2 linked regions of the Homo sapiens genome follow. The protein of the gene in region 1 binds, or shares a complex with, the protein of each later gene. Each region holds a gene or a part of one and is shown on either strand. Other genes may lie near its edges. A codon is read from its position in the direction of its gene.

Region 1 (15,997 bases):
GTGCCCCTGCCCTCCAGCCTAGGTGACAGAGCGAGACCCTGTCTCAAAGCATAAAAGAATAAAGTGACGAGGGGGTCTCACTATGTTGCCCAGGCTGGACTTGAACTCCTGGCCTCAAGTGATCCTCCTGCCTCAGCCTCCAGAGTAGCTGGGATTACAGGTGTGTACCACCGTGCCTGGCCTGTGGGCTTTCGTTTTTTGTTTTGTTTTGTTTTGAGACACAGTCTCACTCTGTTGCCCAGGCTGGAGTGCAGTGGTGCGATCTCGGCTCACTGCAACCTCTGCCTCCCGGTTTCAAGTGATTGTCCTGCCTCAGCCTCTCAAGTAGCTGGGACTACAGGCATGCACCACTACGCACAGCTCATTTTTTGTTGTTGTTGTTGTATTTTAGTAGAGATAGGGTTTCACCATATTGGCCAAGCTGGTCTCGAACTCCTGACCTCAAGTGATTCGCCCGTCTCGGGCTCCCAAAGTGCTGGGATTACAGGCGCGAGCCACCACGCCTAGCTTCCTGTGGGCTTTTCTATGCCTCTCTGCCAGATCCTTGTGTCCTCATTACAGGATAGAGGTGTGGTTCTCAACATGTGCTCCCCAGACCAGCAGCACCTGGACTCTCCTTAGAAACTAAACTAAACCACAGGGGTAGGGTCCAGCAATCCAAGTCCTGCCAACAGCAAGTCCACCAGGTGATGCTGAGAACCACTGGTGTGGAGAAATTACCTGGTTATTTGCCATCTCTCCTATGAGACCAGTGATTCTCAAACCCTGACTGCCCATGAGAATCACCTGGAAGCTTTTTAAACAAACAAGTGGTCAGCCTGCACTCGGAGCGATTCTGATTGAAGTGCTCTGCAGTAGAACCCAGCACGTTTTTTTACTTTGTTTTGTAAACTTTCCCAGAAGATACTCATCAGTAGCCAAGGAGAGATTCACTCGAGTCATCTGTCAGCTCCTAGTAGACAGGCAATCCAGTTTCTTTCAAGTTTATGTCCCAAGCACCTAAGGGGCTTAGCCCAGAGGTGCTCAGAGAATATTGGATGAATCCATTAGTGAACCCATCAGTAAATAATGGATCCTGAGTTCAGATTTCTCCAAACATACGATCATTAATTGCACCAAACAAGCCCTCAATGCACACACACACACACACACACCCCTCTGCTTACCTGTAAAATATTCTACTTCTTTCTCCAACTCTTGGAAAATCTCATCTGCCTCAGCTTTGCCAAACAGGACTGTGTAACTGCAGTCCAGGCCCTCAGCCCGAATGTGCCGCCAGCTAGGGCCTGCTGAGTGGCCTCCATTCCCTGGGGCCTCTCTCCTGGGCCTCTTCCTTGTGCTTTCTTTGTCTCCTCCCAACACAGCTGGCTCTTCTCCAGTTGGCTCTTGCTCCTCCTGCTTCCTCAAAAGGCCCCCTTGAGCCCCTTTCACCAGGAATCTGTCCATCCTGTCCCCACAGGAAAGAAGGGACGTCAGTGGCGAGGCCAAGACAGAAATTGCTCAAGTTCTATCCCCAGTGCAAAAATCTGTTTGTCCAAGGGGTCTCACAGCAACATTCCTAGTTTCACATTTTCATTTTAAAGTTTAAAACCATGTCCTAGAAAGGAAACAGAAGATGTTAAAGCCGGAAGGGACCCTAGGGACAATCTGATCCAGGGTCTCCCACGTCCACCTGTGCATCAGAATCAGCTGGCTAGCTTGCAAAAACCCAGAGGTCTGCACTCCACGCCTGAGCACCTGAATTTTTAAAGAACTACCTCCTGGGAATTCGCACGCCACAGCTAAACTTAGAAACTACAATCCAAACCCTCATTTTGCAGAAGGGGAAACTGTTGCCCACAGAGGCGAAGAGGTTTGCCCAAAGTCAACTGTCCACCCCTTTAAGGAGGAAGGACCCATAACTGACCTCGCTGCCCCCCACCAGTGTTAAAATAGATCAGTCTAGTGATGCTCAAGTGGATACGATTCAGAAGCGAGACGCAAAGAGGTTAAACACGGGTAAACCGCACGCAAAATTCTGATATCACTGCAACACGTCCGTGGGGTGGGGGTGGCAAGAGTGCTCTAGCATCGCAGCTCCGGCGCAGATCGGAATCCCGCAGTCACCCTGGTGGCCTCGTGGTGGGAAAGACGCGCCCCAGCGAATCGGTCGCGTCACTTCCGGAGCACGCTGGGAACTACGGCAGGCTAGGGCGCAAAGAGAGCAGCCGGGCGGCCCCCTGGTGCCACCTGCTGGCCTCCCGTGTGTGGCAAGCACTGCCGCTTTCCCGTTGATCACCTGTTGGGCCACTGTCGAGAATCACGGCTGGGGTGAGAACTGTGGCTTGGCGTCACTTCTCAGTGAGGGTTACTTTGGTGTCCGGAAAGGGCGTTGGGCCACCAGTATATTGTCACGAGTGGGAGCAGGAGTTCTGCAGTCGGATATCGTGGATTCTGTTTCTGTCTCCTCCGCCCTGGCTGTGTGGCCTCCCACAGGTCACTTAACCTCTCTGGGGTTAAGTTGCCTCATCTGTGAAGTGCGGACTACAGCACCTATGTCATGAGAGCGCCTGAGGAGATGACAGGATGCATGAGAAATGCTCTGTCCTCTAAATAAATGTTGGTTCCATTATTGCTCGTTTTTCTTTGTTTTCTTGTTTTTTGATGTTGTTCTTGTTTGTTTTGTTTTTTTGAGACAGGATCTCACTCTGTTGCCCAAGCTGGAATGCAATGGCATGATCATAGCTCACTGCAGCCTTGAACTCCTGGGTTAGAGCGATCCTCCCGTCTCAGCCTCTGGAGTAGCTGGGACTACAGGCACATCCCACCCCACCCTAAATAATTTTTTTATTATTTTTAGTAGAGATAGGGCCTTGCTATGTTGCCCAGGCTGGTCTCAAGCTCCTGGGCTCAAGTGATCCTCCCACCTGGGCCTCCCAAATTGTTGGGATTACAGGCGTGAGCCACCACGACCGGCTCCTAATTTTTATTTACTCTGTCTCCCCTCAATGGAACGAAAGCTCCATGAGATCAGAGGCTTTGTTTTGACAGATTTCAACAAATGTACAATATTGTATGATCACCACCACAATCAAGATCTAAGACAGTTCCGTCCCTCCATAAAACTGCTCCAGCCTCTTAATCAACTTCGCCCATCACCCAGCATCAGCAACCACTGATCTGTCTTCTCTCCCTATAGTTTTGCCTTTTCCAGAATTTCATATACAGGGAATTGCCGTGGTTTGAATATCTGTTCCTCCAAAATCCGCGTTGAAATTTAATCCTCAGTGTGGCAGTATTGAGAGGTGGGGCCTTGAAGAGGTGATTGGGACATGAGAGCTCTGTCATAATGTCCTCATAAATGAATTAATAGATTAATGGGCTCAGGGGTTAATGGGTTAATGGGTTACCGTGGGAGTGGGACTGGTGGCTTTATAAAAGGAAGAAGAGAGACCTGAGCTAGCACACTCAGGCCCCTCGCGATGTGATGCCCTACACGGCTTCAGGACTCAACAGAGTCCCCACCAGCAAGAGGGTTTTCACCAGATGCAGCCCCTCAACCTCGGACCTCTCAGCCTCTATGAGAAATGCCTTTGTGGGACTTCTTTCACTTAAGCATATTGCTTTTAAGATTCATTTATGCGCCCCCCCACCTCCCCGCTTTTTTTTGTGAGACAAGGTCTGGCTCTACTGCCTAAGCTGGAGTGCAGTTGCATGATCTCGGCTCACTGCAACCTCCACTTCCCAGGCTCCACTCCCACCTCAGCCTCCCAAGTAGCTGGGACTACAGGCATGCACCACTACACCCGGCTAATTTTTGTATTTTTTGTAGAGATGGGTTTTTGCCATGTTGCCCAGGCTGGTCTCCATAGTCTTCAGCTGGTGAGCTGAAGAAATCCGCCTGCCTTGGCCTCCCAAAGTGCTGGAATTGCAGTCATGAGCCGCTGTGCCCAGTCGTATATGCACATTTGTATTACTTATTTGTTCCTTTTTATTACTGGTATAGAAGGGATGCCCCACAGGAGTAGGCCCCACATAGGGTTGTTTCTCTGATTTTAGGTTACTATGAGTAAAATCACTATAAACATTCACATACAAGCTTTGTGAATATAGTTTTTCATTTCCCTTGGGTAAATAATGCCTAGGTGTGGGAGTGCTGGGTCATAGTGGCTCTAAGGGCAAATGATTTTCAGCTTTGAGCCTCTCTCCCTTAGACTTCAGCTTCTTGTCCTAGGCACTGGGACACACCAGCAACAAGAAGCAGCAAGTTCCTTTCTTCACTCAGGTTACATTTCGGGGATGGAGACAGAAACACACAAGGAAAGAATAAATAATATGCTGTCTCTAAAGAAATTGTGTAAAAAGAAAAAATAAATAAGATGCTTTTGTATAGTATAGCAGTTATAGAGCAATGGGCTAGAAAGTGGGGCAGGAGGAGAAGTCCTTTTCAGGGAAAGATCCTGAGCTGAGACCTGAGGCTTTCCAGGCAAGGGGACGGTGAATGCAAGGGTGTGCAGGCCACAGGGGGACAAGCTGGGTGTGTCCAGCAATTGTGCTGGGAGCTGGACTCAGTAGTGGGGGCTTCCATCAGAGAGGAGGCAGCACTGAGACCTGGGTAGGAAGCTGGGGTTTATTCTAAGCCTTTTTGAAAACCAAAGAAGGGTTTTAACCTAAGGATTGTCTTTTTTTTCTTTTTCTTTTTTTTGTTTGTAGACAGGGTCTTGCTCTGTCACCCAGGCTGGAGTGCAGTGGCACAATCTCAGCTCACTGCAACCTCCGCCTCCCGGGTTCAAGTGATTCTCCTGCCTCAGCCTCCTGAGTAGCTGGGATTGCAAATGCATGCCACCACGCCTGGCTAATTTTTGTATTTTTAGTAGAGACGGGGTTTCACCATGTTTGCCAGGCTGGTCTCGAACTCCTGTGCTCAAGCGATACGCCCCTCCTTGGCCTCCCAAAGTGTTGGGATTACAGGCGTGAGCCACCGAGCTGGGCCAGGCCCCAGGTATTGTCATGATGTAAAAATCTCTCTCTAGAAAAGAGAACACCAGCTTCCCAGCTGGTCTTCTGTAGCTAGGAGATGCAAGAGCAGCAGTTGAATTTGAGGTTTGCTTTGGAGAAAGAACCAAAAGCAGATATGGATGGTTTGGATGTGAGGGAGGGAAAGAGAATCCTAAGTGTATTAGTAGTGGTGGGAGGAGGTTCGGTACAGTGGTGTCATTTGGAAGACAAATCGTTGGTGTTTAACCTCTATGACCCGAAAGTCTCCCACAAGCCTGATACATTAGGCAAAATGTTTGACTGCACTAAGCCTTAGTTTATCGTCATAAAATAGGCCATGAAAATTGCGTGAGAAAATGTATATAACAGTTCAACAAATAATATTGGCTGGGTGTGGTGGCTCATGCCTGTAATCCCAGCACTTTGGGAGGCCAAGGTGGGCAGATCGCCTGAGGTCAGGAGTTCGAGACCAGACTGGCCAACATGGTGAGATCCCCCATCTCTACTAAAAAAATACAAAACACACTTGGGCAAACATGGTGAAACCCCATTTCTACTAAAAATAGAAAAATTAGCCAGGCGTGGTGGCGCGCGCCTATAATCCTAGCTGAGGCACGAGAATCGCTTGAATCCGGGAGGCGGAGGTTGCAGTGGGCTGAGATCACACCACTGCATTCCAGCCTGGGCGACAGAGCAAGACTCTGTCTCAAAAACAAAATACACACACAAAATATAATAGTATTTGTTTGTTTGTTTGTTTTTGAGATGCCTCGGATTACAGTGCGGGGATTACAGACGTGAGCCATCAAGCCCGGACAATATTATTATATTGTTCATTGCACTCCCACAACACCCCTAAGGGGCAGGAACTTTTCTTCCCAGCCCCCTCCCCCCGACCCCACCGAGAGACAGGGTCTCGCTCTGTCGCCCAGGCCTGGAGTGCATTGGCGCGATCAAAGCTCACTACAGCTCAGACCCTCTGGCCTCAAGCGATCCTCCAGCCTGGGCCTCCCAAAGCGCTAGGATTACAGGCGTGGGCCACCGCGCCTGACCAGTCTTCTCTTCTTGCAGCTGAGCCTTAAGAGCCTGTCCAAAGAGCAGAGGTGGGCTGAAGGCACAAAGCGAATGAAAGAATAGGCCCCCGGGCACCGTTGCACGCCCCACCTCCTCCCAGGGGCGTTGCACTCCAGCCCCTCCCGCACATGCGCACTGGGCCTTCCACCGCCCCCCGCCCCCAGCAAAGCCCCCCGCTCGGAGCATGCGCGGGCCGCTTGGCGCCAATTGCTGACCGCCACAGCCACAGCCAGGGCTAGCCTCGCCGGTTCCCGGGTGGCGCGCGTTCGCTGCCTCCTCAGCTCCAGGATGATCGGCCAGAAGACGCTCTACTCCTTTTTCTCCCCCAGCCCCGCCAGGAAGCGACACGCCCCCAGCCCCGAGCCGGCCGTCCAGGGGACCGGCGTGGCTGGGGTGCCTGAGGAAAGCGGAGATGCGGCGGTGAGGCGCGGCTTGGGCCGGGGCTAGGGGGTGAAGGGGGAGGAAGGCGGTGGGCCCCGCCTGACGGAGGGCGTGCAGGATCGCGCCTCTGACTCGGTAAACCCGGGCTCCGCTTTCCAAATAGCCTCCACGTGTTCAAAATAGCCGCCGCTGTCCCCCATGGGCCGCCATGCTAAAGGGCCAGCCAATGGGAACGCGTCTCGGGGCCCATGGCGCCAATCCGCGCGCCGCAGGCCCTCCTGGCTCGGTGCGCTGTCCAATCAGAGGGGAGAGGGGGCGGGACCCAGAGGGAGGTTTTTTGCCGCGAAAAGACCACGTGGGGACGCGGTGGGGCGGGTCTGGCGGGGGCGGGGCACCTCTGTGCAGGGTTCCCAGTCACCGCGACGCTCCTCGGGAAGCCATAGGGCGCCTCCCAGCCCGTCTCCCCGCTCCAGTTTAGAACCTAATTCCCAATTCCCGGACCGGGCCCAGCCCTGGGCTCTTACTGTCCGCTTTTGCTGGGACCTGTTCCACAAATGGGCGTCTTCTGCCTTGGGCCGTGGGGGTTGGGCCGGAAGCTGCGGACGCCTGGGAAGGGGCCGCTGCAGCTCTTGAGCCGCCTCTGCGGGGACCACTTGCAGGCCATCCCAGCCAAGAAGGCCCCGGCTGGGCAGGAGGAGCCTGGGACGCCGCCCTCCTCGCCGCTGAGTGCCGAGCAGTTGGACCGGATCCAGAGGAACAAGGCCGCGGCCCTGCTCAGACTCGCGGCCCGCAACGTGCCCGTGGGCTTTGGAGAGAGCTGGAAGAAGCACCTCAGCGGGGAGTTCGGGAAACCGTATTTTATCAAGGTAAATATGGAAATGCACCTTCCATAAGGGTAAATGTGGAGGCTGCCGGCCCTTTTGTCTTGTTAGTGTAGCCGGCCAAGTTCATGTTTCCGTAGGCTTAGGTTGTACCCCCTTCAACCTCCTTTACTCACAAAGGGGGTAAAAGAAAGCCATGATGTTTCACTCTGCAGCTTTATATTGGTTAAAGTTGTTAACGACCCGCGAGATGATATCATGGATTCATTTAAGTCACATAGTCTATTGTCCAGGAAAGGCTGGCGTAGTAAAATCACCAACCATCCTGAATGAAACCTGGCTTGAGCTTTAAAAAGCCGAGAGGAGTGGCACTGTCAGGACCCAGCCCAGAGAAAGAGGCAAGGAATTGACCTGATTGAACCACTTAGGTGGGGGGGCAGGCACTGTTTTTGTTTGTTGTTTTTTAAAAGAATTTGGACATAACATGACAAAGAACTAATGATGTTCCAAATAACTTGCACTAGAAGCTTTCTTATTGAATTCTTATGGTTTCCAATGAGAATCTGATTTTAAGTCTAGTTTATCTTTAAATCAGCTAATGGGATTTGTTGCAGAAGAAAGAAAGCATTACACTGTTTATCCACCCCCACACCAAGTCTTCACCTGGACCCAGATGTGTGACATAAAAGATGTAAGTACAACTTGTTGATAATTTTTATTGGGGAGAAGGAGTCAAATAGTATTTTTAAATTAGGGACACTGGAGTTAAGCCACAGTCCATCATTCAGTAGTAAATAAAACACTGAAATCCCGAGGTTTGGCTGACTGTATTTCAGCCTGTATTTACTCTTTTTAATGTTTACCACGTGGTATTTATGTGGCAAAAAGGAAAACTATGTACATCCTGTGCTCTTATTTCTTGTATTTTTTTTAAATCCTGAAACTAACCTCCCGCGGTGTCAGATGTTATGGTGGTGGTGAAGTTCAAACTGACACACAAAGCAGTTAAATCTTTTGCAGCTTGTTATAGTCAACCCCACCTTGACCTGACCACACTGCCTTATAGTTAGCACTTTCAAGCTCTTGACTTCTGGCCTGAACAGTTTTGTGGTTCTGTTATCAGATCCCTTTGCTTTAGTTTGTCTTATATAACAGTTGCTGGTTGGCGGCTCTCATCCATCTTGTGTTCAGAAGTTCGTGGGGCTGGGCACGGTGGCTCATGCCTGTAATCCCAGCACTTTCGGAGGCCAAAGTGGGAGGATCATTTGAGGTCAGGAGTTCAAGACCAATGAAACCTGGTCTCTCCTAAAATACAAAAATTAGCCGGGCATGGTGGCGCACGCCTGTAATTCCAGCTACTTGGGAGGCTGAGGTGGGAGAATCGCATGAGCCCAGGAGGCGGAGGTTGCAGTGAGCTGAGATCACACCACTTCACTCCAGCGTGGGCGACAGAGCCAGACCCTGTCTCAAAACAAAAAAAAAACCGTGGCTTCTCACTGTTGAACTATGAAAGCAGAGCAACCCTCTTTAAATAGGGCCACGTCCTACCTCTCAGCCTTACCTCCACCTCCCACTCTCCCACTCCAGAGTTGGACAGTGTGGCAAACCCCTCCCCACTTCTGTCTCTTAAAAATCAAGTAGATGCCTCTGTGGCACCTCCTTGAATTGAAGTCCGTTGCCTGCCACCTCTGTGATCCAGTTTTCCTCTGAGCTGCTACGATGCATTTAGCACCTGCTGACACTGGACTTTTAGGTTTCTTACCCGTTTTCCTCCCCCGTTTTGTAAACTGGGGCAAGAATCTTGTGATTTAATGAATATCTGTGAAATGACATAGAAGTGAAATAGGTGAATAAATCATCTTGATAAGGCAGCCACACCTAATACTTAGAAAATCTCGTAAGCTTAATTTTAGAGTAAGAATTTAGAATCTAGCTCTTTGGTTTTGAAGCTAAATTAAATCCTATTAAGATCAATACTAATTTGCTTCTTGTTTGAATGCCCTATTCTGAATACCAGTAATCAGTATAAACAGGGAATATTAAAAGGAATATTTTGAGGGAATGCTCAAAAACCAGTTTCAAACCTATGAGGATCAGATGGGCCAGCAGGGCTTCTTGACAGACCAGCATTGGGAGAGTTGTTTCACAAGAGAATATGTTGGCATGGTGTGAACACCAAGGGGAGGGACAAGAGGTCCCCAAAAGCCTCCTGGTCATGGAACATCTGGAGCTGGATTCTGAAAGATAGAGTATGTCAGCTGTGGAGGAAGATTCTAAGAACGCAATGGCAGAAGCTTGAGAATGAAGACTAGGTGGGTGGGCCCTGGATGGGAAGGACGAGGCGGCCTATGTTTCAACACCTCCCGTGACAGGAACTTCATTTCATTTCATTGTCTCTTGCCACCTACTCCCATGGCCCTTTTGATCTGACCTCATTCTCTTCTGGCTCCACCTGTTAGAGGATATAGGGGAGCAGACACCCTCATATGCTGCTGGTGGGAAATCTGAATTGCTTTTTTTTTTTTTTTTTTTTTTTTTTTTTGAGATGGAGTGCAGTGGTGCAATCTCGGCTTACTGCAACCTCCACCCCCTGGGTTCAAGCGATTCTCCTGCCTCAGCCTCCCGAGTAGCTGGGACTACAGGTGTGCGCCACCACACCCAGCTAATTTTTGTATTTTTAGTAGAGATGGGGTTTCACCATGTTGGCCAGATGGTTTCGATATCTTGACCTCGTGATCTGCCTACCTCGGCCTCCCAAAGTGCTGGGATTACAGGCGTGAGCCACCATGCCAGGCCCTAAATTGCTTTAATTCATCGAAAAGTAACTGGGGGCTAGGCACAGTGGCTCATGCCTGTAATCCCAGCATTTTGGGAGGCCGAGGAGGGAGGATCCCTTGATCTCAGGAATTTGAGACCAGCCTCAGCAACATAAGGGAGGCCGTGTGTCTACAAAAAGTAAAAAAAAAATTAGGTGGGCATAGTGGTGCACTCCTGTGGGCCCAGCTACTCTGGAGGCTCAGGTGGGAGGACCACTTGAGCCCAGGAGGGCGAGGCTGCCATGAGCTGTGATGGCACCACTGCACATCAGCCTGAGCAACACAGCAAAACCGTGTCTCAAAAAATTAAAAAAGCAGCTAGGTACATATCTTTACAAGTTTAAAATACGCTTAGCCTTTGACCAGCAACTCTGCTATTAGCAATCTATGCCATAGAAGTGTTTTATTTGTTTTGTTTATGTTTGTTTGAGGCAGGGTCTGTGCTGCTTACATTACAGTATTGTTTAATTCCTGACCCCTGGTGGTTCACAGGTGAAGGTTGTCATCCTGGGACAGGATCCATATCATGGACCTAATCAAGCTCACGGGCTCTGCTTTAGTGTTCAAAGGCCTGTTCCGCCTCCGCCCAGGTACAGTTGCTTTACAGGTGACTGCAGTCCAGACATGATTCCTTTCAGATGTGTACTTAGCTTATTACAAGTGGGACTATCTGGGGCACTGTTCACTAGCCTTGGAGGAGGATTTCTCGGCCTCAGCACCATTGACATTTGGGGCTGAGTCATTCTTTGTTGTGGAGGAGGAGAGGAGTCCTGTGCTATTGCAGGATCTTGTGCCACATCCCTGGCCTCTACCACTGGAAACCAGGAGCAACCCCCAGCTCGTGATAATGAAAAATGTGCAGACATTGCCAAAAGTCCCTTGGGGGCGTAAAATCACCCCTGGTTAAGAACCACTGCTTTGGGCCGGGCGCGGTGACTCACGCCTGTAATCCCAGCACTTTGGGAGGCTGAGGCAGGAGAATCGCTGGATCCCGGGAGGCGGAGGTGGCAGTGAGCCGAGATCCTGCTACTGCACTCTAGCCTGGGTGACACAGCAAGACTGGAAAAAAAAAAAAAAGAACCACTGCTTTTGGAGGATTTGGTGTATGATATACATAAATATGCTAAGGACAGAAAACTGTCCCTGAGCAACAGTGGGGGTCTGGGTTGTAACTGCTGGGTTGATTTACTTAGGTTTTCCAGAGTGCTGTTAAATCCAAGTACAGACTAAAGTAAAGGTCTTTGGCAGAGTCACCTGTTAGAAGGAGGACTGGCAGTGTTGATCTCATTAATCGGCGCCATATGTGCCAGTGTCCCTTCCAAGGGCTGGCTGTAACTTCTAACCTTTTCACATATGTCTTAGACGTTACTGAGCTTTCAAAATTATGCTTAAGATTCTGTTTTTTGTTTTTCTTGTGGCTTGCTTTCAGTTTGGAGAACATTTATAAAGAGTTGTCTACAGACATAGAGGATTTTGTTCATCCTGGCCATGGAGATTTATCTGGGTGGGCCAAGCAAGGTAAGCCAGCGACTGCTAGATTTTTTTTTTTTTTTTTTTTTTGAGACCGAGTCTCACTCTGTTGCCCAGGCTAGAGTGCAGTGGTGCAATCTCAGCTTACTGCAACCTCTGCCTCCCAGGTTCAGGCGATTCTCATGCCTCAGCCTCCTGAGTAGCTGGGACCACAGGCATGAGCCACCATAGCTGGCTAATTTTTTAATGTATTTTTAGTAGAGACAGGGTTTCACCATGTTGGCCAGGCTGGTCTCGAACTCCTGACCTCAGGTGATCCGCCCGACTCGGCTTCCCAAAGTGCTGGGATTACAGGCATAAGCCACCACGCCCAGCCCCGACTCCATTGTTGATGGTAGTGGCTGCTGCCATTATGCCGGCTGCAGCAGGGAAGCACAGCTTGCTACACTGGATCCCATCAAGCATTGGTTTCATCATGGATTTAGCTCCTGTTGCTGGGTATTGGGCTGATTTGCCTGAGCCTACATTTAACCTGTTTCTCTCATGTGTATAGGTGTTCTCCTTCTCAACGCTGTCCTCACGGTTCGTGCCCATCAAGCCAACTCTCATAAGGAGCGAGGCTGGGAGCAGTTCACTGATGCAGTTGTGTCCTGGCTAAATCAGAACTCGAATGGCCTTGTTTTCTTGCTCTGGGGCTCTTATGCTCAGAAGAAGGGCAGTGCCATTGATAGGGTATGTTTTGTTTTCTTTCTTTTTTTTCTTTTTTTTTTAACACTATAAAAACAATGTAAAGAATTCTAGGAGTCCCTGCTGTGTTTGGTCCTGGAAAATCCATGTTATAAAATAACTTTTATTTTCCCTTAGGCCTGTTATAAGGGTTTCCCATTGAAAACTGAGAAGAATTTGGACAAATTATAGGGGTGATGAGTTGTGTATGAGGAAAGCAAAGCAACTGGCCAACTTGTGACTGAATGCAGTTGGTGCTGTAGGCATGAACTTGGTGTCTACAAGATACAAGTCCCTGGGTACCATTCACTTAACAAGTGATGGATGAGGCATGTTTCTGGCTTCCAAGAAATTTGGGAACATATAGAAAACACAAAGAATTCCACTCAATCACAAATTTAACTTGCCCATGAAAATACTATCAGTGATCATTATTGTTTTGTTTCTGGGTTTTTTGTTTTTTGATGGAGTCTCGCTCTGTTGCCCAGGCTGTAGTGCAGTGGTATGATTTTGGCTCACTGCAACCTCCGCCTGCTGGGTTTAAGTGATTCTGCCTCAGCCTCCCGAGTAGCTGGGACTACAGGCGCCCGCCACCACACCCGGCTGATTTTTTTTTATTTTTTAGTAGAGACAGGGTTTCACCATGTTGGCCAGGCTGGTTTTGAACTCCTGACCTCAAGCGATCTGTCCTCCTCAACCTCCAAAGTGCTAGGATTACAGGCATGAGCCACCACACCCGGCCTATCGGTGATCATTATTAACCCCAAGGTCTAATTGCAGATACCCAACACGACCAAACCAGTGGCTCCCCTCCCTACATCTTCCCCCTATCTGCTACCTCCCTCTTTCCCTTCACTCACTGAAGCACTTCTACACCTGGTTGTGGAAATCAGAGACCTAAAAGTCATCCTTGAATCCTCCATCCCATCAGTAAATCCCATCAACTCTGCCTCCCAAAACACCCCAGTCTACTGCTTCTCATTCGCCACTGCTGCCCTTCAGGCATGAGTCACCATCATCTTTCTCCAGGAGAACCGTGATGGACTAGAGATGGAGGCTTGATGGAGAGCCGCAGAGTGGAGGAGGGAGAGATAGGGGGTGGGAAGGAGACGAGCCAGGGGTGTGTTCATCCCTGGCAAATGGGAGAGACATTGGGTGGGGGAGAAATTATAGAGTAAATGCTTCAATGATCGAAGGCAAGGGCTTAGCAGAGGTAACCTGACAATAGTTTTTGGTGTATCAGCAGGAGGTAACGGGGGTATCAGAAATGTGCACGTATATTTAACCCCTACCTTGTGTGGGTACTAGGTTGAGCACTTTTGTTTTTTGAGATGGAGTCTTTCTGTCACCCAGGCTGGAGTGCAGTGGCATGATCTCGGCTCACTGCAACTTCGCCTCCTGGGTTCAAGCACTTCTCCTGCCTCAGCCTCCTGAGTAGCTAGGATTACAGTTGCCTGCCACCACACCCAGCTAATATTTTTTATTTTTAGTAGAGACTGGGTTTCACCATGTTGACAAGGCTGGTCTTGAACTCCTGACCTCAAGCGATCCTCCCATCTTGGTCTCCCAAAGTGCTAGGATTACAGATGTAAGCCACCGCACCCGACCAGGTTGAGTACTTTGCATGCAGAATCTTACTTAACTCTCAGAAAGGCTTTGAGGTAGGCATACACTTGTATGAGTGACCTAAGATCTGACTGGTATGAACTGCTAAGATGTGATCATCTAGGTATGTAAGAAGTGTGCGTGAGAGTAATTGCTAATCTCTATCCCTTAGGGAGGTTTACGGCCAGTGTTGCTCTTCCGCAGTATATTGGTAATCTTTAATCATGGTTTGGTCTGAAAGTAAACAGTTGTTAAAGTAGCTTGGTCATTAAAGCCAAATTGCATATCTCCAGCCCAGTGTCTCTTCTGATCTATAGAGTGCCTTGTTACTACTGCCCCATGAACATGCCAAATTCAACATTTTCCAAACGAAGTTTCTCCTTTTCTCATCCATGCTTCACTAAACTTCCTCCTCTGCACTCCCTAGCAGCAAAAAGCACCATCATCTGCCCAGTTGTCCAGCCAGATCTATTACTGACACCTGCCTACCTCTCTTTCTCCCCTCTTCTGTCCTTTTTTTCCACCTTCCCAGTCAGTCAGTCATTCATATCTGTGTTCTTTCTTCCCCCTCCAAATCTACCCCTGCCTGACCACCTTTGCCTTCATTCAGGCCCTCACCTGATCTTGCCTGGAGGGTTCTGATGCTTTCTCCCTGGAAGGCCTTGCCTTAGGCTGAAGATCTGATTTCAGGGGGGTAGAGGGGTGGCCCCCAATCGGCCTCCCAGACTTAACTCTATCCCTCTTTGCACTCCGATCCCTAGGCTGACCCATTCCCCTTTACTTTTTCACGGTGCCCCACTTCCCTGCCTTTGCATATCCTGCTTTCTCTGCCTACAGTGTAGAGGTCATTTTCTTCTGGGATTCTTTAGAGCTCTGCAGGGCTGACATTTACAGGGGCCTGTGCTGCTTGCGTGTGTGTTCAGCATTTGGTGTGCATGACTTCTTATCACACTCAGCCCCTGTGATCCTCATTTGATTGGTCACAGTAACTTCATAAGCTGGGCGGTATTGTTATTCCCAGTCTACAGATGAAAACTGAAGCAGCTTAGAGTTGCAGCAACTTCTCTGTGGTACAGCTACTGAGGGTAGAGGTAGGCCTCGACCCCGGGCAGTCTGGCTCCAGGCTCTGTACTCTTAACCACACTGGATTGCCTGGCTTTAGTCCTCACCCCTCATCGCCCCTCCTGGACTGAGCCCCTTGAAGGCAAGAGTGTTTTGAGAAACAGTGATTTGTTCGTTAGTTTTTATATACAGAAAAGAAGAGGAAAACAAAAATGGTCTATATCTCCCTGTTAAAATAACTATAGTTGATATTTTAAAAAAATCAAAGTAGTCATTTGCCACATAATGATGTTTCAGTCATAAACTGTATATATGACGATGGTCCCATAAGATTATAATATTCTGGCCGGGTGTGGTGGCTCATACCTGTTATCCCAGCACTTTGGGTGGCCGAGGCGAGTGGATTGTCTGAGCTCAGGAGTTTGAGACCAGCCTGGGCAACATAGTGAAACCCTGTCTCTACTAAAATACAAAAAATTAGCCAGGTGTGGCGGCGTGTGCCTGTAGTCCCAGCTACTTGGGAGGCAGAGGTTGCAGTTAGCTGAGATCATGCCACTGCACTCCAGCCTGGCAACAGAGTGAGACTCTATCTCAAAAAAAAAACATATATATATATACACATATATATATACGTATATATATATGTGTATATATATATATATAAAAAATATTTTTACTGCATCTTTTCTATGTTTAGATACACAAATGCCTACCATTGTGTCACAGTTGCCTATAGTATTTAGTACAGTAACATGCTACACAGGTTTGTAGACCAGGAGCAATAAGCTACACTATATAGCCTAGGTGTGTAGTGGTAGGTTATCCCATTTGGGTTTGTGTAAAGATGCCCTGTGGTGTACGGATAGCAGTGAAATTGCCTAACAACACACTTCTCAGAATGCATCCCTGTCATTAGGTGATGTATGACTATTGCTTTTTTTCTTTTGAAACAGGGTCTAGCTCTGTCACCCAGGCTGGAATGCACTGGCTTGATCTCAACTCACTGCGGCCTCAACCTCCCAGGCTCAAGCAATCCTCCCACCTTAGTCACCTGAGTAGCAGGGA
Region 2 (15,890 bases), on another chromosome or scaffold:
ATTCCAAATATGGTCAAACATGAGGAGAAAAAAAACTAAAACTAATAGCTAAGGGACATTAATAATTTTCCCAAGATTGCATAACCAAGCAAAATCTAGACTCCTGACTCCGAATCTAGTGTTCTCCTTTCTCCAACTAATGAACGCCACAGATAGCAATTGTAGAAGGAGATTCTGTTCTTTCTTTACCATTCTGTTAATTTCATGTTAAGGTTAAAAAAAAAAAAAAGAAAAGTTATTTCCTTTTGAAGAGAGTAAGAAATAACTTCCCATTAAACAGGGAGACTTAAGTATTTTAACTATCCAAAAGCCATGACATGAATCTAGAAACTGCTTCATGCAAAAACACTTTAACTGTTATTTTATTCTGACTTTACCTGAAAAGATCTCAGGTGGCCTGCCACTTTCACATATGTTTCTGGAGGAACCACAGTGTTTTCACTGCTGGTGTCCTAACATAAAATACAAACATGTCATTAAAGTTTTAGTGATGCTGGTAAAAGCCTCTTTAACGTTTCTATATTATGTATAGAAAGAGAAAGTTACGAAGTAGAAGAGTTAAAGGATCCTAAAATGGCATTAAGTAGTTTGCCCTGCCTTTTACAACTTATTTTGTAAAACCAGGAATTAGAATAAAAATATCTCTAAAGGTAATTATCAGTTCCAAAGTTCTGTAGCACATCATAAAAAAGCAAACAATTGTGACACTCTCGTTCAAGCTCTTAGGCACACAATTTTCTTTTTTCTTTTTTTGAGAGGGAGTCTCGCTCTGTCACCCAGGCTGGAGTGCAGTGGCACGATCTTGGCTCGCTGCAACCTCCGCCTCCCAAGGGAGGGTTTGAGTAATTCTCCTGCCTCAACTTCCCCAGTAGCTGGGATTACAGGCGCCCGCCACCACGCCCGGCAGGCACACAATTTTCTGGTGGATATACTTATTGGCAAAGCAATTCTACTTTTAGGAATTTAAGGAAGTAATTAAGAACATGCATTAAGATTTAGATTTATCATAGTATAGAATATTAAAAATTTTAAAACAACCTAAATATCCAACATAAAGTACACATTTCTATATAATAGGATACTCCACACTGTTGCAAATGATAACATAGAATTCTATTTACTGCCTGGAAAAACAAGTCATGATACATGGAAAAAAGCTGATTTCCCATTTGGGACAATACACACTAAACTGTTTATAATGGTTGACTAAGATAATTAAAAACGATTTTAATACTTATCAGTTTCCTAGAATATGCACACATTATTTATAAGAAAAATACATTAGCTGATTTTTTTTTTTTTTTTTGAGACGAAGTGTCTTGCTCTGTCACCCAGACTGGAGTGGAGCGGCATGATCTCGGCTCATTGCAACCTCTGCCTCACAAGTTTAAGTGATTCTCCTGCCTCAGCCTCCCAAATAGCTGGGACTATAGGCGCCTGCCACCACACCTGGTTAATTTTTTTGTATTTTTTTTGTATCTTTAGTAGAGACGGGGTTTCCCCATGTTGGCCAGGATGGTCTCGATCTCCTGACCTCATGATCCACCCGTCGCGGCCTCCCAAAGTGCTGGGATTACAGGCTTGAGCCATCGTGTCCGGCCCATTAGCTGATTTTTAAAGTTCTTTTCTGACTACATAAAATGTATTACTTTAAAAAAAATTGAAAATATATCGGGGTATATGGACTCACACCTGTTATCCTAGCACTTTAGGAGGACAAGGCAGGAGGATCCTTCGAGCTCAGGAGTTTGAAACCAGCCTGGGCAACATAGTGAGACCTCGTCTCTAAAAACAAACAAAAAACTAGAAAATATATGCTTAAAAATAAAAACTCTGGCCAGGTGCAGTGACTCATGCCTGTAATCCTAGCATTTTGGGAGGCCAAGGCGAGCAAGTCACTTGAGGTTAGGAGTTCGAGACCAGCCTGGCCAACGTGGTGAAACCCTGCCTCTGTTAATAATACAAAAAAAAGGGTGGGCACAGTGGCTCACGCCTGTAATCCCAGCTCTTTGGGAGGCTGAGGCGGGCGGATCACGAGGTCAGGAGTTCGAGACCAGCCTGGCTAACAGGGAAACCCTGTCTCTACTAAAAATGCAAAGATTAGCCAGGTGTGGTGGTGGGTGCCTGTAGTCCCAGCTACTCGGGAGGCTGAGGCAGGAGAATCACTTGAACCCAGGAGGCAGAGGTTGCAGTGAGAGACTGTGCCACTGCACTCCAGGCTGGGCAACAGAGCAGGACTCTATCTCAAAAAAAAAAAGAAAAAAAAAAAAAAAAAACCACACAAACAAAACAATTGTATTCCCATATACAACATTTTGAATCCACTTGAGAAAAGATCTCTACCTCAACTCCTTTTATCAAAATATATTCCATGTAGATCATAGGTTTAATTATAATAAAAGAAACCATAGAAATAATATGAACAATTTTTTTCTTTTTTTTTGAGACAGAGTCTCGCTCTGTCGCCCAGGCTGGAGTGCAGTGGTGGGATCTCAGCTCACTGCAAGCTCCGCCTTATGGGTTCACACCATTCTCCTGCCTCAGCCTCCCTAGTAGCTGGGACTACAGGCGCCCGCCACCACGCCCGGCTAATTTTTTGTATTTTTAGTAGAGACAAGGTTTCACCCTGTTAACCAGGATGGTCTCGATCTCCTGACCTCGTGATCCGCCCGCCTCGGCCTCCCAAAGTGCTGGGATTACAGGCGTGAGCCACGGTGCCCGGCTTTTGTATTTTTAATAGACAGGGTTTTGCCACATTGACCAGGCTAGTCTTGAACTCCTGACTTCAGGTGATCCACCCGCCTCCGCCTCCCAAAGTGTTGGGATTACAGGCGTCAGCCACCGAACCCAGCTGAGATTTATTTATTTGGTTTTTTGATAAGGTCTCGTTTTATCATCCAGGACGGATTACAATGGTGGGATCTCGGCTCACTGCAGCCTGTGCCTCCCGGGTTCAAGTGATTCTCCTGCCTCAGCCTCCTGAGTAGCTGGGATTACAGGCATGCACCACTGTGCCCGGCTAGTTTTTGCATTTTTAGTAGAGACGGGGTTTTACCTTATTGGCCAGGCTGGTGTCAAACTCCTGGCCTCAAGTGATCCACCTGCCTCAGTCTCCCAAAGTGCTGAGATTACACGCATGAGCCACCGCACCTGGCCAACAGCTCTTTTTTAATCTGAAGTATATATTGGGTGGCTGCTTAAGATTTTTTTTTTTTTTTTGAGATAAGGTCTCGCTCTGTCACCCAGGCTGGAGTGCAATGGCACAATCTGGGCTCACTGCTACCTCCACCTTCAGTGGGGCAAGTAACAGCAGATGTGGTGGAAATAGCAGGAGAACTGGAATTAGAAATGGAGCTTAAAGATATAACTGAATTGCTGTAACTTTATGGTAAAACTTGAGTGGATGAGGAGTTGCTTCCTTTTTTTTGAGACTGAGCCTCACTCTGTTACCCAGGCTGGAGGGCAGTGGCACAATTTTGGCTCACTGCAACCTCCATCTCTCAGGTTCAAGTGATTCTCCTGCCTCACCCTCCCGAGTAGCCAGGATTACAGGCATGTACCACCATGCCCAGCTAAATTTTTTATTTTTAGTAGAGACGAGGTTTCACCATGCTGGCCAGGGTGGTCTCAAACTCCTGACCTCAAATGATCTATCTGGCCGCCTGGGCCTCTCAAAGGAGTTGCTTCTCATGGATGAGCAAATAAACTGGTTTCTTGAGATGGAATCTCCTCCTAGTGAAGATGCTGTGAACATTGTTAAAACGACAATAAAGGATTTAGACTACTCCATAAGTTTAGTTGAGAAAGCAGTAGCAGGGTTTGAGATTGAATCCAATTTTGAAAGAAGTTATACTGTAAGTAAAATGCTATCAAACAGCATGATATAATATCGAGAAATTTTATGTGAAAAGGAGACTCAGTTACTCAGGCAAACTTTGTTGTCTTATTTCAAGAAATTGCCACAGCCAGCTCAACCTTCAGCCAACTACCACCCTCCTCAGTCAGCAGCCATCAACAGTGAGGCAAGAATGTCCACTAGCAAAAACATTATGAATTGCTGAGGGTTCGGATAACTGATTATTACAATTTGTTAGCCATAAAGTTTTTTTTTTTCTTCTTTTTTTGAGAGACAGTTTCGCTCCTGTTGCCCAGGCTGGAGTGCAATGGCGCGATCTCAGCTCACTGCAACCTCCACCTCCTGGGTTCAAGCGATTCTCCTGCCTCAGCCTCCCAAGTAGCTGGCATTACAGGTGCCCACAACCACACCTGGCTAATTTTTGTATTTTTAGTAGACAGGGCTTCACCACATTGGCCAGGCTGGTCTTGAACTCCTGACCTCAGGTGACCCTCCCGCCTCGGCCTCCCAAAGTGCTGGGATTATAGACGTGAGCCACCGCGCCCAGCCACCATAAAGTATTTTTTAACTAAAACAAACAAACAAAAAAAACAAACTTTGGGACTAGTAGAAGCTTCCGAAAGGTAAACTAGAAAAAACTGCACAATTTATTTTTCAAAATTATTTCTTTTTGAGATAGGGTCTTCCCATGCTGCCCAGGCTGGTCTTGAAATTCTGGCCTCAAGTGATCTTCCTGCCTAAGTCTCCTGAAGTGCTAAAGTTACAGGTGTGAGCCACTGTGCCTGGCCTCATTATAAGAGGTCACTATAATCATTTTCAAGTTCTTGCAAACAAAAACACTGTTAGGGGAAGGGGAATCAAAGAGAAAATTTACAAAAACCCCACAAATTGACATTAAACATAGTAAAAAAAAAAATACATATATATGGCTAAAACCAAAGAAATACACATAAAAAAATGACAAAATTTTCACTGAAAAGACTATTTTTTTCTGAGATGGAATATTGCTCTGATGCCCAGGCTAGAGGGCAGTGACGCAATCTTGACTCACTGCAACCTCCATCTCCCAGGCTCAAGCAATTCTCCTGCCTCAGCCTCCCGAATAGCTGGGACTACAGGCACGTGCTACCATGCCCTGCTAATTTTTTAATTTTTTTTATTATTTTTACGTATACTTTTTTTTTTTTTTGAGACAGTCTTGCTCTGTTGCCCAGGCTGGAGTGCACTGGTGTGAAGATCTCCGCTTACTGTAACCTCTGCCTCCTGGGTTCAAGCGAGTCTTGTGCCTCAGCCTCCCGAGTAGCTGGGACTACAGGCGTGCACCACCATGCCAGACTAATTTTTTTATTTTTAGTAGAGACTGGGTTATACCATGTTGGCCAGGCTGGTCTCAAACTCCTGACCTCAGGTGATCCACTCATCTTGGCCTCCCCAAAGTCCTGGGATTACAGGCATGAGCCACCGCACCTAGTCAAAAAGACTATTTTTTAAAACAACTATCACACTGGCAAAAATTTAAGACAAAAACCCATTGTTATAAAGGGTATGGAGGATAGGCACAGAGGCTCACACCTGTAATCCCAGCACTTTGGGAGGCTGAGGTGGGAGGATTGCTTAAACCCAGGAGTTTGAGACCAGCCTATTTCTTAAAAAAAAAAATGTTAAGGGTATGGAAACTAACTGGGCACTCTCATGCATGACTGAAGCGTAAACTGGTACCTTTAGAGAAGACAGTACAAAAATGCAAAAACTAAGATGTTAAAAAAATGTCAAATGTGTATTTCCCCCCAGAAAACCTACTTTTAGGAATACATCTTATGATTATTTTATTTTTTTGAGATGGAGTTTTGCTCTTGTTGCCCAGGCTGAATGCAATGGCACGATCTTGGCTCACTGCAGTCTCTGCCTCCCAGCTTCAACTGATTCTCCTGACTCAGCCTCCCGAGTAGCTGGTATTATAGGTGTGTGCCACCACGCCCAGCTAATTTTGTATTTTTAGTAGAGATGGGGTTTCACCATGTTGGCGGTGCCGGTCTTGAACTCCTGACATCAGGTGATCCACCTGCCTTGGCCTCCCAAAGTGCTGGAATTACAGGCGTGAGCCACGACGCCTGGCCTTACGATTATTTTATAATCATGAAGAAATGTATGCAAAGATACTCACTGGAGCATTGTATATAATAGCAAACGACTGAAAAGAAGTTAAATGTTGTTCCCTGACTGGGTCCACTGTTAAGTAAGGGATGATGTATTCTTATAATGGAATCGGTGGTCATTTAAAATGATAGATGTAAATCTTTACAGATAACATTAAAAAATCAGTTCTTGGCTGGGCCATGGTGGCTCAAGCCTGTAATCCCAGCACTTTGGGAGGCTGAGGCAGGATCACCTGAGGTCAAAAGTTCGAGACCAGCCTGGCCAACATGTTGAAACCCCGTCTCTACTAAAAATACAAAAATCAGTTGGGTGTGGTGGTGCACGCCTATAGTCCCAACTACTCGAGAGGCTGAGGCAGGAGAATCGCTTGAACCCGAGAAGCAGAGGTTGCAGCGAGCCAAGATTGCACCAATGCACTCCAGCCCGGATAACACGAGTGAAGCTCAGTCTCAAAAAAAAAAAAAAAAATCAGCTCCTCACCAGGCACGGTGGCATCAGCCTATAGTTCCAGCTACTTGGGAGGTTAAGGCCAAAGGATCACTTGAGCCCAGGTTTGAGGCCAGCCTAGGCAGCAAGCCAAGACCCTGTCTCTATTTAAAAAAAAAAAAAAAAAAAAAAAAGGCCAATGGCTCATGCCTATAATCCCAGCACTTTGGGAGGCCAAGGCAGGTGGATCACCTGAGGTTGGGAGTTCGAGACCACCCTGACCAATACAGAGAAACCCTGTCTCTAATAAAAATACAAAATTAACCAGGTGTGGTGGCACATGCCTGTAATCCCAGCTACTCTGGAGGCTGAGGCAGGAGAATTGCTTGAACCTGGGAGGCGGAGGTTGTGGTGAGCTGGAGATCGCGCCATTGCACTCCAGCCTGGGCAACAAGAGCACAGCTCCATCTCAAAAAAAAAAAAAAAAATCAGTTCCACAACATAATTTTGAGTGAAAAGAGCAAATTACTTAGCAGTTGCATAGCATATTATCCCTTCTACAGTAAAAGAGGTATGTGGACACCTGTATGTACATATATGCAGAGACAGATGTCTGAAAGGGTATTTTCCAAAATGTGTCGTAATAGTAGTTCTTTAAGAGACATGAGATGTCAGGTGATTTTTTAAATGGTTTATAAGCAAGCATAGTGCATTTTATATGAACAAGTAGTATTAGGTATCCATAGTATCTACCTCCCTGCTTGATGGCAGGGACTGTGTCTACCTCATTCTTTTTATACCTGGAACCAAGCACAGTCTAGTTCAGAATTGGTACTCCAACAATAACTGCTGAATGAATTATCCTTTATTTTTCTGAGAAGGAAAAAATTTAAAAATTACATAACTACCAAGTTATTTCTCTATAGATAACTTGTGGTTTTTGAAGGAGAACCGCATTTTTTTTTTTGAGTCAGTCTTGCTCTGTTGCCCAGAGCAACAGAGCAGTGCGCAATCTGCTGGAGTGCAGTGGCGCAATCTTGGCTCACTGCAACCTCTGTCTCCTAGGTTCAATCAATTTTTCTGTCTCAGCTTCTGGGTAGCTGGGATTACAGGCACCCAGCTCATTTTTGTATCATTAGTAGAGATGGAGTTTCATCACGTTGGCCAGGCTGGTTTCAAACTTCTGACTTCAGGTGACCCGCCAGCATTGGCCTCCCAAAGTGCTGGGATTACGGGCGTGAGTCACCATGCCCAGCCTAAAACAGTCTTTATTATCCAAATTTTCTGTAATGAATGTATTTCAAAAACAAAATACAAAACACCAAGAGGCCTTCTGCACAATTGAAAAATAAAAGGATAAAAAGTATATACTGTATTTCAGTCTATTTTATCCATGTTTATAAAGACACTTATATATATGCTGCTTTGTAAAAATTGGGTCAAATCCTGCATACCACATTGTAATATGCTTTTCTCAACAATTTATGGCAAACACTTCTTTGTGGCAATACACGCTTTTCTGTATCATTTGTAGTATGTTATAAATGTGTCATGGTTTACTTAATAATCCTTTATTGCTAGTATTTTGAGATTGCTTTATTTTTATTTATTCATTTTGAGACAGAGTCTTGCTCTGTCGCCCAGGCTGGAGTGCAGTGGCATGATCTCGGCTCACTGCAACCTCTGCCTCCCAGGTTCAAGCAATTCTCCTGCCTCAGCCTCCTGAGTAGCTGGGATTATAGGTGCGCAGAACCACGCCCGGCTAATTTTTGTATTTTTAGGAGACGGAGTTTCACCTGTTGGCCAGGCTGGATTCGAACTCCTGACCTCAGGTGATCTGCCTGCCTTGGCTTCCTAAAGTGTTGCGATTACAGGCGTGAGCCACTTCACTGGCCTAAATCTTTGTACCTGTCTTTAATTCTTTCCTTGATGTAAACTCCTAAGCTGTGGAGTTCTGCTAGGTCACCACTGTTTGTCTTTTTTTGTTTTGAGGCGCAATCTTGGCTCACTGCAAGCTCCGCCTCCCAGCTTCATGCCATTCTCCTGCCTCAGCCTCCCGAGGAGCTGGGACTACAGGCGCCTGCCACCACACCCGGCTAATGTTTTGTATTTTTAGTAGAGACAGGGTTTTACCGTGTTAGCCAGGATGGTCTTGATCTCCTGACCTCGTGATCCGCCCACCTCGGCCTCCCAAAGTGCTGGGATTACAGGCGTGAGCCACCATGCCAAGCCAAAAAGGAGCTTTATATTAATTAAAAATTTAAATGTTTGTAATATGTTGCAAATATTTTCCACATTCATTTAAACAATACTTATTCCAGGACCACTATGTGACTAGCACTGCTCTAGGTGCTAAGGCTACAGCGGTGACCAAGATAAAAATCTTTGTTCTAGGCCGGGCGTGAGGGCTCATGCCTGTAATCCAATCACTTTGAGAGGCTGAGGAGGGTGGATCACCTGAGGTCAGGAGTTTGAGACTAGCCTGGCCAACATGGCAAAACCCCATCTCTACTAAAAATACAAAAAATTAGGTGTGGTGGCGGGTGCCTGTAATCCCAGCTACTTGGGAGGCTGAGGCAGGAGAACTGCTTGAACCTGGGGCCCAGAGGCTGCAATGAGCTGAGATTGCGCCATTGCACTCCAGCCTGGGTGACAGCACAAGATTCTGTCTCAAAAAAAAAAACCAAACAAACAAACAAACAAAAAAGCAGGGGCTGGGTGTGGTGGCTCAAGCCTGTAATAATCCCAGCACTTTGGGAGGCCAAGGTAGGTGGATCACAAGGTCAGGAGTTCAAGACCAGCCTGACCAAGATGGTGAAACCCCATCTCTAGTAAAAATACAAAAATTAGCCGGGCGTGGTGGCAGGTGCCTGTAATCCCAGCTACTTGGGAGGCTGAGGCACAGGATCGCTTGAGCCCGGGATGCGGACGTTGTAGTGAGCCGAGATTCCACCACTGCACTGCCTGGGCGACAGAGTGAGACTCTGTCTCAAAAAAAACTTTGTTCTAATGGAACTTAACATTCTACTGTCTCCTGTCATTTGACTTTTAATTCTGTTTTTGGTATATTGGGAAGGTATATAGTCAAATCTACTAACCTTTTACTTTAGAGTATCTGTCTTTGATGTCTTTTTGTATTATTTTTATAAGAAAAAACTTTAAAAAGACTAAAAAAGTTCAACATCTCCACAGTTCCAAAGTAACCCCATCATGATTCAAAAACAGCCACTTACATCTGTGTCAACCCACTGGCGAACGTCCATGGGTGCAGCTGTCATGTCATCTATTTTGTAAACAATGTTGGTTGGAGCCTTCTCTGCATGTCTGATGATCCCCACAATAGTGACCTAGGTTAGAAGAAACAAAGAAAAAAAAAAAAGGTCTGGTTCCCCCTGAAACCAAGGCTACATTTTTGTATTTTTTAATGAAGTCTTATTTCATTCTTTATTATGAGTAAGTGATTCTTTCACAAATTATTTGACATACCTGTGAAATCTCAACATTCCCAATTCTGAACACTTCATCAACCAAAGTGGCAGAAAGCAGCTGAGATATAGTACAGGGCACAATGTGCTGGGCTCGGGCTCTCTGAAAAGAAAAAACATGCAAAATTCAATTAAGAAAGTAATAACTACCACTCATTCAACACCTGCCATGTGCCAAGTACTTTAAATATATTAGAACATTGAATTTCAAAACAAATCTCATTATCCTTGCTTCAGAGAGATGGAAACCAAGGTCATATAGCAAACCAATACCACACTTTTAGAATCCAAACCCAGGTTTGTCTAACTCCAGAGCTCCTGCTGAATAGATACACATGTTGCTCTGAGAATTCACCAAAATGAATAGGTCAGAGTGGGGGACAGGATAAGGAAGAATGACCTGCTGCTGCCAGAACAGACCTTCAAGAGGAAACCCCAGCTTTAGGGTGTAGACAGGCTGGTGCTGCTGTTCAGGTCACTGACAAAATGAGATGGTATTGGGAAAAGGTTTGAGAAATGACTAATGGAGACAGGACTTTGGAATTGCTTGTAGGTCTTGTGATGAACTGTAAAAGGTAGAAGAATAGCTTCTTGTAGGACAGATTTTTTGACTATCAAATGGAGCTCCTGGGGAAATGGAGTAAGAGCTTGGCCATGTTGGACATCTTTTTAAATTTTTTTTCTTTGAGACAGAGTTTCGCTCCTGTTGTCCAGGCTGGCATGCAATGGCGTGATCTCAGCTCACTGCAACCTCCGTCTCCCGGGCTCAAGCGATTCTCCTGGCTCAGCCTCCTGAGTAGCTGGGACTATATGTGCCAGCATTTTGCATTTTTAGTAGAGATGGGGTTTCACCATGTTGGCCAGGCTGGTCTGGAACTCTTGACCTCAGGTGATCTGCCCACCTCAGCCTCCCAAAGTGCTGGGATTACAGGTGTGAACCACTGCCCTCGGCCAAATTTTGTTTTGAGATGGGGTCTTGTTCTGTCACTCAGGCTGGAGTGCAGTGGCATTACAGCTCACTGCAGCCTCAAACTCATGGGCTCAAGCAATCTTCCTGCTATAGTCTCCTGAGTAGCTGGGACTACAGGCACACCACCACATCCAGTCAATTAAAAAAACATTTTTTTTTTTGTAGAGATGGGGTTTTGCTATGTTGCCCAGGCTGGTCTTAAACTCTTGGTCTCAAGTGATCCTCCGACCTTAGCCTCCCAGTGTTAGGATGACACACATAAACCACTGTGCTGGACTCATGTTGGACGTCTTAGGGGGAAGAGGCAGGATAGGGTAGGCAGAACAGTATCTAGTGAGCACACTCAAATTATATCTTTTTTTTTGAGATGGAGTCTCACTCTGTTGCCTAGGCTGGAGTGTGGTGGCGCGATCTCAGCTCACTACAACCTCAATCTCCTGGGTTCAAGCAATTCTCCTGTCTCAGCCCCCCCGAGTAGCTGGGATTATAGGTGCACGCCACCATGCCCAGCTAATTTTTCTATTTTTTTCTAGAGATGGGGTTTTGCCATGTTAGCCAGGCTGGTCTCGAACACCTGACCTCAGGCAATCTGCCCACCTCGGCCTCTCAAAGTGTTGGGATTATAGGCGTGAGCCACCGCGCCAGGCCCAAATCATATCTTAAAGCAGCCAGACAACAGTGTAAACTTATTTTTGCCTACCAGTGGCAAGAGGTAGTCTGGGTAACATGAAGATGAATATGATGGGACAGGATTTACCCTCAACATATTCCTAATCTAGGGGAGGTACAAAGGTAAACAATAAACCTGATCTTGATACACTGTAAAATGAAACATGCCATGTGGGACCTCAGAAAAGCTTACTGGCAAAAGAGGGAGGCTTTAGGCTGAACTCTGAAGCACGAGAATTTCAACAGCGAAAAAGTAGCAGGTAACAGGCTGAGGGCAAGTATGTACTCCCAGTCTCCTAGAGGGAATATGTACAAGGCACAAAAACGATGAGAGCTCTTCCTGTCAGAAGCCAAGAGGAAGTGGACCAATACCTGTACTACATGGAAGACTTAGAACACAGTAGACTCTTGGCCTTCATGGATTTAGCAGTCGCAACTCTGACCTGAACATCCACGACACTGCCAATATTTCATTTTGCTGAAGCATGATTGTGAATGGTGAGTATTGCCACAACAGGATAAAGCAAGCTCAGTCAACCGCTGGCACATATGCCACAAAAGGCAGCAGCCAAGCTTGAGGGTTAAGATTGTGGCTCTATTCTCAAGAGCAGCTGCTTGGCCAGGCGTGGTGGGTAACGCCTGTAATCCCAAGGCCGAGGCGGGCAGATCATTTGAGGTCAGGAGTTTGAGATCAAGCCTGGCCAACATGGCGAAACCCCATTTCTACTAAAAATTTAAAAAAAAAATTAGCCAGGTGTGGTGGCGCATGCCTGTAATCCCAGCTACTGGGGAGGCTGAGGCAGGAGAATCACTTGAACTCGGGAGGCGGAGGTTGCAGTGAGCCGAGATCATACCATTGCACTCCAGCCTGGGCAACAGAGACTCTCCTCAAAAAGAGAAAAAAAAAAAAGAGCGGTCGCTCTTGGTCACATGTATTAACTCATTTGTACCTCGGTTTCCTCATCTGCAAAACTAGGAATGATATTATAAAAATTACATGGTAAAGGACTCAGAATACTACCCAGCACAAAGCACTCAATAACAAATTTTAGCTATTATTATATTAGCTATTGTTCCTCATTCTTTACATTTGCAATAGCTTTTAATAACAACGTTGACAGGATCAACTTTTTCAATTTTACTTTATGGTATTTTATAGGTAAAGTTACATGCTATGTTAATATTTATAGTCTTAAAATTTGCAGGGGTCCCAGGATTTACCTCTCACAAACTACTATATTTCTGTTTTTACCTATCACAGCTGAGATTTTCATTGTATCTTCAGCATAAGAAAACTTAAGAACCAGTAAGGTAAAGTGGCAAGAACATGAGGTTTGGAGCCAGAGAGTCCTGTAGACCCATGCTCAAATCCCAGCTCCAAAGTCCTGGACACATGACCACCTTTTCTGAAAACTGGGGATATACACCTCTTAAGTTGTAAATGAGACACATAACATATATGAAGTGCTAATACCAATCTCTACATGTAGTAGATGTTTGACAAATATTATTACCTCTCAGGTAAAAATGTTACATATAGGTAACAGTTGAGATGTTAACAATGCCTTCAAATTCATCTCAAATCAAGTATTTATTTTTTATTGAGCATATATTTTATGTAGGAATTGATCACAAGGAATTCCTAGTCTGCTCCAAAGAGGTTCACAAAGTGTCAATAAAAATATGCTTAATTTTGGAAAAACAAAAACAAAAACACTTTCAAACTAAAAAAATTTTCATAGCTGACTATGAACCACAGACTACTCTGACAGTACTTCAGGAAAGTACCATTATTACAGATTAAAATTGGGTCGCTATTTGAAACTTCACATGGTTCAATCATATTGAACAAATACATAATCAACAGGAAACATTTTGGATAGAGTTCTTTATCACCCAGGGATGGTGCTGCACACCTGTAATCCTAGCTACTTGGGAGGCTGAGATGGGAGGATCCCTTGACCCCTGGAGTTAAGAGTCTGTGGTAAGCTATGACTGCACCACTGCACTCCAGCGGGGGTGAAAGTGAGACGGTCTCAATTTTAAAAGAAAAAAAGAATAGGGCGTTTACCTAACTTTTAACTGTGGAAAATACTAGATTTAAAAACAAAACAAGGCCAGGCGCAGTGGCTCATACCTGTAATCCCAACACTTTGGGAGGCCAAGAAGAGCAGATCGCCTGACGTCAGGAGTTTGAGACCAGCCTGACCAACGTGGCAAAACCCCGTCTCCACTGAAAATACAAAAATTGGCCAGGAATGGTGGCATGCGCCTGTAGTCACAGCTACTCGGGAGGCTGAGGCAGGAGAATCGCTTGAACCCAGGAGGTGGAGGTTGCAGTGAGCTGAGATTGTTCCACTGCACTCTGGCCTGGGCAACAGAGAGACTGTCTCAAAAAAAAAATAAAAATAAAAACAAAAAGACTGTCCGGGTGTGGTGGCTCATGCCTGTAATACCAGCACCACGGGAGGCAAGGGTGGGAGGACTGCTTTAGCCCAAGAGTTTGAGACCAGCCTGGGCAACATAGTGACACCCTGTCTCCACAAAAAGAAAAAAAAATTCAGAGACTGGGATTGAGTCTCCAACTTACAAGCATTATTCTCTGAAAAGCTATCTTAATACCCAGCTTTTAGGAATTCTGAGATAAAAATTATAATAACCAGAATGGAGAAAAATAGTTAAGCTTGGGAAGAAAAGATGAGAACCAATCATCTACCTTGTTTTCTCCTTCACAACCTCAAGAAAATCAGAATAGAGAATTAAAGTCCCTTGAGATCTTCTAGGAAAGAGAAAACTACAACAGGGAGAAGTTGCTGCTCATCAGATGTTGGATTTGTTCAGCATCATGTGCGTACTGTCTGATTCTAGTTCCTTACTAGCTATGTAAGCTTAGGCAGTCCCTTAATATACCTGAGTCTCTGTTAGTATGCTGGAATAAACAATAAATTCCTTACAGAATTACATAAAATAATTTATATGAAAGTTATAAAGCGGCCGGGCACGGTGGCTCACACCTGTAATCCCAGCACTTTGGGAGGCCGAGGCGGGCAGATCACGAGGTCAGGAGATCAAGACCATCTTGGCCAACATGGTACAACCCTGTCTCTACTAAAAAAATACAAAAAACTAGCCGGGTGTGGTGGCGGGCGCCTGTAGTCCCAGTTACTCGGGAGGCTGAGGCAGGAGAATGGCGTGAAGCCGGGAGGCAGAGGTTGCAGTGAGCCCAGATTGTGTCACTACACTCCAGCCTGGGCGACAGAGTGAGACTCTGTCTCAAAAAAAAAAAGAAAGAAAGTTATAAAGCAATGTCCAAATATACCAGAATATCATTGAGTTTTTTAACTTGCTTACACTGAATCTTAACATATCTGAGTGATTCCTAAAGAGAAGTCAAATTAACCTCACATTTATAAAATGAAATTGCAGTTGTTAAATGCAAACTCAGCTGGGAATGGTGGCTCACACCTGTAATCTCAGCACTTTGGGAGGCTGAGGTGGGTGGATTGCTTGAGGCTAGGAGCCTGAGACCAGCCTAGCCAACATGGCCAAATGCCACCTCTAAAAAAAAAAAAAAACACAAAAATTAGCCTGACACCGCAGTGAACATAGGTAGTACCAGCTGCTAGAGAGGCTGAGGTGGGAATGATCACTTGAGGCATGGAGGTCCAAGCTGCAGTGAGCTGTGATCACACACCACTGCTCTCCAGCCTGGCAGAGACCCTGTCTCAAAAAAAAAGGCAAACTCATTTCAGAGTGACTAAACATTTAGACAGCTTTCTATAGATTGTTTTCCTACACATTGCCTTACTCATCAATTCTCAGAACCACCCCGTGACATGAGTACTACCAGTATCATCAGATGAGAAAAACCAAGGGCCACAGCCTTCAAGATGCTTTCCTGAAGTCACAATGCCAGTTAAAAGGCAAGATGGATTCTGGAGCCCCCATGTTCTGGCTCCATAGCCTGTATTCTTTGTATATAATATTAAGTCTCACAATGACATTTTAAGGTATGTTAGCCCCTCTTCACAGGGGCAAAACTGACTCCCAAGCCAGTTAAGAAATGTGTCCAGTGACACCCTATAAGTAAAGCAGCACGGCAACGGCAGAACACACGTCTATGACTTCAAAGACCACATTTCTTTTTTTGAGACAGTCTGCTCTTGCTCTATCACCCAGGCTGGAGTGCAGTGGCATCATCTTGGCTCACTGCAATCTCTGTCTCCAGAGTTCAAGCGATTCCCCTGCTTCAGCCTCCCTAGTAGCTGGGATTACAGGTGCCTGCCACCACGCCTGGCTAATTTTTGTATTTTTAGTAGAGACGAGG

Evidence for each region.
Region 2: the proteins of UNG (region 1) and RPA2 are in contact, whole or in part, in an NMR structure (PDB 1DPU), measured with the Homo sapiens proteins. Residues at the interface, in NP_550433.1 of Homo sapiens: Arg73 (codon at 7,176), Ile74 (codon at 7,179), Asn77 (codon at 7,188), Lys78 (codon at 7,191), Ala81 (codon at 7,200), Leu82 (codon at 7,203), Arg84 (codon at 7,209), Leu85 (codon at 7,212), Arg88 (codon at 7,221); in NP_002937.1 of Homo sapiens: Ser250, Asn251, Glu252, Gly253, His254, Ile255, Tyr256, Ser257, Thr258, Val259, Asp260, Asp261, Thr267.

Annotation. Positions count from the first base shown.
Region 1 is NC_000012.12:109,091,341-109,107,337, forward strand, and holds the start of UNG (uracil-DNA glycosylase), read left to right. Parts: upstream 1-6,256; 5' UTR 6,257-6,339; coding exon 6,340-6,471; intron 6,472-6,831; exon of another isoform or gene 6,832-6,986; coding exon of another isoform or gene 6,987-7,091; coding exon 7,092-7,298; intron 7,299-7,848; coding exon 7,849-7,944; intron 7,945-10,561; coding exon 10,562-10,659; intron 10,660-11,498; coding exon 11,499-11,587; intron 11,588-12,092; coding exon 12,093-12,271; intron 12,272-15,997. Other genes in the region: DNA oxidative demethylase ALKBH2, read right to left, coding at 1,167-1,446. UniProt on the Homo sapiens protein: Uracil-DNA glycosylase that hydrolyzes the N-glycosidic bond between uracil and deoxyribose in single- and double-stranded DNA (ssDNA and dsDNA) to release a free uracil residue and form an abasic (apurinic/apyrimidinic; AP) site.
Region 2 is NC_000001.11:27,897,256-27,913,145, forward strand, and holds part of RPA2 (replication protein A 32 kDa subunit), read right to left. Parts: intron 10,028-15,890; coding exon 9,926-10,027; intron 9,787-9,925; coding exon 9,673-9,786; intron 453-9,672; coding exon 378-452; intron 1-377. UniProt on the Homo sapiens protein: As part of the heterotrimeric replication protein A complex (RPA/RP-A), binds and stabilizes single-stranded DNA intermediates that form during DNA replication or upon DNA stress.